2 separate regions of the Homo sapiens genome follow, and region 1 is linked to region 2. The links come from fine-mapping of genetic effects on gene expression. Tissue or cell type: whole blood. Region 2 holds a variant in brackets; the other region holds the start of a gene. All regions are shown on one strand. Distances are from middle to middle.

Evidence for each region. PIP is the estimated chance that this variant, and not a neighbour inherited with it, causes the effect.
Region 1: CD300C starts here. The variant in region 2 is fine-mapped to the expression of CD300C in whole blood (TOPMed, PIP above 0.99). The same link has a PIP of 0.9 or more in monocytes.

The regions. Positions count from the first base shown.
Region 1 is chr17:74,545,099-74,547,863 of GRCh38, forward strand. It overlaps CD300C (CD300c molecule), which reads right to left and starts at 1,017. Exons shown (of 4, transcript NM_006678.5): 1 at 624-1,017. The coding sequence starts at 684.
Region 2 is chr17:74,513,226-74,515,990 of GRCh38, forward strand. No RefSeq gene overlaps it. Among named protein-coding and RNA genes, the nearest start is that of CD300LB, 17 kb to the right of the region's middle. The variant T/G (reference allele first, on the strand shown) is at 1,308.

The DNA of each region.
Region 1 (2,765 bases), 32 kb after region 2:
AGGCTCCCTCTGTGCAGAGGTGGGAAGGGCATGGGAAGTTTCCATGGAGACTGGAAAGGCAAGGCTAGGGAAACACTGGGTGTGTGCGGGCCTGTGTGTGCATGTGAGTGTGACTCTGTGTGTGTGACTGTGTGAGTGTGACTGTCTGTGTGAGTGTGACTGTGTGTGACTGTGTGTGCATGTGTGACTGTGTGTGCATGTGAGTGTGACTGTGTGTGCATGTGTGACTGTGTGCATGTGTGTGTGAGACTGTGTGAGTGTGACTGTGTGTGCATGTGTGTGAGACTGTGTGAGTGTGACCGTGTGTGCGTGTGAGTGTGACTGTGTGTGTGATCGTCCCAGATAAAATTTGTGATTGGATAACTTTGGCAATGACAGTCACAGCATCACCTCCCACCAGGGCTTCCTGTCTCGGGCACAGAGGAATAGGCCTCCCCCGTGCTGTGCCCTGCCGCCTGCTGTCCCCTGGTGAGGCAGCTGCTGACCGCTCCTGGGTGCTCCTTTGCCCTCCTCCCCTCTCCCTGCCCCACTCCCCTCTATGACCGCTACTCCAGCGCCTGCACCCCTCCCTGCCCTCTCCCACTCAGGACAGAGCTCCCCAAGTCCAGGGTCGGCCCACTCACCTGGGACAAGCAGGAGGAGCAGAGCTGAAGACCGCCACGAGGCCCAGGCCCTGGCAGTCATTCCTGTAACACGAATGTCACCTGCCACTGTGCAAGACCCCAGGAGGGGACAAAATGTAATCTCCTCCCAGCAGATCTGAGCTTCGCTTCTGCTTTTCTTCTGCTCTCTGCTTCCTTGTCCAGCCCTGTCTCAGGTCTGAGGCTGGAGAGGGTCAGGGTACAGGAAGCTCAGGGAGAGAGCCGCCTGGGCTGAGGCCGGTGCTGACAGCTCTGGGATGGTGCTAGTGGCTCCTCTCAACCCTGACGTCTGGCAAAGTCCAGGGTCCCTTGGGTGGCGATGCAGCCACTTCCCCACAGCCCACAGCTTCTGGCTTCAGTGTGTTACTCACACTGCAGAAGGCAGAGCCAAGCTGGGCCATTTCCTACCACATGGGCTGCTCCACCCTCTGTGACATGTCACTTCCTGGTCAGGATGGACAATCTTGTGGTTGGAGGCTAAATCTGCCACCTTCTTTAGCCTTGGAGGTGACCAGAGAGAGGTTGTGTCCCTTAATCTTCAGCTAGGTCCCCGCAGAGACCTCTGCCCCTAAGACCCCCAGCTCTTCTTCTGGCCTCAGAAGTTAGCGCTATGAACCCAGACACCATCTGCATGTCCCTTTTTGGTGCTGAGTCCCCAACCAGGTTAAAATCCCACAGGCTTGGGGAGTTTTCCTCTTGTGCCCCTGCCCCCAGACCTACACACACAGCGGCATCACCCACCCGAGACCCTCCTTTTCCATCTTGTCTTCTTGCCAAAATCCATGCCCCAGTGGGAATCAGGGCAGAGAACTGAGAATAGAGAGAGAGTTCAGACATGTGAAGATGCTGAAGTGGGACTTTGTGGAGGATGTGAGGCTGCGACTGAGCCAGCACACACCCCAGGGCACACGGAGGGGTGTTTGGTGACTGAGAGGACAGTTTGTCATGAGCAGCGGCTGCTGGTGTCTATCCTGGGTCCACTGTGATGGCCAGGGGCCTCCGCAGGGAGCAGACATGGCAGACAGGCCTTCCCAGGAGGCGGGAACCCAGGTCTATCCACACTCGGCATGGCTGGTTCTCCTGACGTGATGGGCTCAGGGTGTCTTTACCCTGGAAAGGGCAAGGAGGCTAGTCAGACACAGGATTTACCTCCTGTCTGTCCTGGAGGGCATCACCCCTTCTCCACCTTCTCATGCCTTAAGCATATTCCTTGACTCTCCCAACCCTCCTACAGATTTCTGTTCCTTTCTTCCTATCAGAGTCAATAGCACCAGTATGTGCACACAGCCATGAGGTTGAGTGGAGAGTGATGGGAGTCTGGGCAAACCTGGCACCATGAAGGGGTCTCTGCACCCTCGACCTGCCCTGTCCTCCCTCCATTTACACTCTCAGGGACACAGCATGCACTGGGGTCATTGGTGTTGATGCCCCCAGACTCACATCATGGGACTATCTCTAGCCCAGTGCAATCCCAGGGCCTCCAATTAGCCCAGTGCTCAGGTCTGGCCTGGGCCTGGCTTTGAAGTATCCCGGCTCTTTCATGGGCTGACCTGGTCTCCCCTTCTGCTCATACCCACCCCTTTCATTCTCCACAGAATCAGCAATGTGATCCCTGACACACACACATGGCCCTGGGGAGGCGCTGCTGAACTCCCAATGGCTCCTGCTGTCACAGGATGGCACCCACCTGACCTGGCCTCTGCACACAGGTCCTGGCAGGCCCCAGCACCTGGTAGGTGTCTCCAGCCTCCTGGATCCAGGTTCACACTGGTGCTGCCACCCTCCCCACTCGGGCCTTTGTCCAGACCCTCAACCTCCCACTCCTCTGCCTGGCTCCAGCCGACAGGGTTGCCTGCGTGTTCCTTGACCTTCCCGGGTTATGGTGGCTCGCTTTTTAGGGGTCCTCATGACCCATTTCACACTTCCCTCTCGTCTTCCTCAGTCTTTCTGTTGGCGAGTCAATGTCTGCTCCCATCTAGGGTGGCCGCCCCTTGAGAGCAGGTGCAGCCTCTTGTCTCATTCACAGCTGTGCCCGTTATCATTCCAGAGTCTGCCAAGTGCAGTTTAACAAACTGGCTGTTGAAAGGATGAATGGGTGAATGGATACATGACATCCTGATGTCC
Region 2 (2,765 bases):
TGTGCCCCTGGGGATGATTCTACCTTCTAAAATGGGCCATGGAAACCTGGTTTCATGTGGTTGGGTCAATCCCCCCAGTGCTTCTGAGGTTGATGAGTTAAACGATGCAAAGGCCATGGTTGGGAGATCTCCTCTTGGGATACGACTTTGGTGAATTTACCTGGGTCTGGTCCTCATTCCTGCAAATCTAGAACCCGACCACCATCCAGACAAGAAGAGAGACTGAGACCCTACAATAACTCAAGTGATTTATTTTGGGGACACTCCTTTCCAGGAAGCTGAATGCTTGTGACCCTCATCTGTTTTTCTGATTTCAGCTGCCTGGGAGGTTGCCTGAGCAGGCAGGAGGCAGCTCATGGGCATGGACTTGAACTGATGCCTCGAATGGCCTGCCTGGCCTTTGTCTTTCTTTATGTTCCATTACCAAATATTCTGCTCCTGGAATCACAGCCTTTGTTTTTATTTATTTATTTATTTATTTATTTATTTATTATTTTAAATGTTTTATAGAGATGGGGGGTCTTGCCAGTACAGGCTGGTCTCAAATTCCTGGGCTCAAGCAAACATCCTGCCTCAGCCTCCCAAAATGCTGGGATTACACAACAATGCCCTAAAATAAGACTTTCAGGTGAAGCTTATGCATGTCTTTCCTGCTTGGTGAGTAGGGTATGATTAGAGTTGGATTTTTCCATCCCATATTCACTCTACAGAATCAATTTAGTGTTCTGCTTATCTATGGGACATTGATGTCATGTGATGGGTGATGTCATGTGATGGGTGATGTCATGTGATGGGTGATGTCATGTGATGTGTGATGTCATGTGATGGGTGATGTCATGTGATGCATGATGTCATGTGATGGGTGATGTCATGTGATGGGTGATGCCATGTGATGGGTTATGTCATGTGATGGGTGATGCCATGTGACAGGTGGTCATGTGACAAGGTGATCCTGTGATGAGTGGTCATGTGATGGGTGATGTCATGTGATGGGTGATGGGATGGGCGATGTCATGTGATGGGTGATCATGTGACAGGTGATGTCATGTGATGGGTGGTCATGTGATGGGTGATATGTAATGGGTGATGTCATGTGGGGGTGGTCATGTGATAGGTGATGTCATGTGATCGACGATCATGTGATGGGTGATGTCATGTGATGGGTGATGTCATGTGATGGGTGATCATGTGACAAGTGATCATGTGATGGGTGATGTCATATCATGGGTGATGTCATGTGACAGGTGATCATGTGACAGGTGATCATGTGATGGGTGATGTCATGTGATGGGTGATGCCATGTGACA[T/G]GTGGTCATGTGACAGGTGATGTCATGTGATGGGTGATCATGTGATGAGTGATGTCATGTGATGGGTGATGTCATGTGATAGGTGATCATGTGATGAGTGATGTCATGTGACAGGGATGTCATGTGATGGGTGATCATGTGATGGGTGCTGTCATGTAATGGGTGGTCATGTGATGGGTGATGTCATGTGATGGGTGATGTGATGGGCAATCATGTGATGGGTGATGTGATGGTGATCATGTGACAGGTGATGTCATGTGATGGGTGGTCATGTGATGGGTGATATCATGTAATGGGTGATGTCATGCGGGGGTGGTCATGTGATAGGTGATGTCATGTGATGGGTGATCATGTGATGGGTGATGTCACGTGATGGGTGATATCACATGATGGGCGACATCACGTGATGGGCGATCATATGATGGGTGATGTCATGTGATGGGCAATATCACGTGATGGGCGACATCACGTGATGGGCAATCATGTGATGGGTGATGTCACATCATGGGTGATCATGTGATGGGTGATTGATGTCATATGATTCCAGGGGGAGCACCTGTTCACCAAGCAGGGGAGAGGCTGTGAGTTCTCTGCCACGCTGGTAACACAATCTCTACTGGGGCTTCCTAGTGCTGACTGCTGCAGGTGGCTCATCATAGCACACCAAGGGCCACCACAGGGACACATTACCAAAGGAAACCCCAGAAGACACAAAACATCCCCTTCTTCCTCCATAAACTTGGGAGCCAGATGTTGGGTGACATCGTTCACCATCTCTGGCTGCTCTGGCCTTGCTGGAACCCCCTGTTTTCTCTTTCTCCTCTTGCATCATGATAAATGGCCGATCATTAATGGATGAAAAGTGGTGTCTCTGACACAAAGGCTCAACGAGGCGTCTCTGTCAAAGGGTCACACTAGATTCTATATCCACACACAGGAGACCTCTGGACTGGGGACCCTGAGCAGTGCCTTGGAGAATTCTGCAGCTTCCTGCTCTCAGGCCTGTGGCCCCATCTCTCCTTGATTGATGCCCCCAAGGATGCCCTGAGGTTAGAACACTCCCTCCGTGGGTGTGTTCTTGAGGCCACCCAAAGTGGGGAGCTGTGTCTGAGACTCCACTTACGGCCAGAATACTCAAAGGCGTTATCTCCCAGGTAAAATGGTGGACCAGAAACTACCTGCTTGTGAGTAAGTAAGGAAGGAGAGCCAAGGTAAAGCCATTAGCATTTGCAGACCAGTTGTTCCCTGACAAACATAGATTTAGAACAGAAATTGGCAGCTAAATAAAGTTTAGTACTTGTATTACTCAGGGTTCTCTAGAGGGACAGAACTAATAGGAGATATATATATATATATGAAGGGGAGTTTATTAGGAAAATGAACTCACACAATCACAAGGTAAAGTCCCACAATAGGCTGTTTGCAAGCTGAGGAGCCAGGAAGCCAGTCCAAGTACCA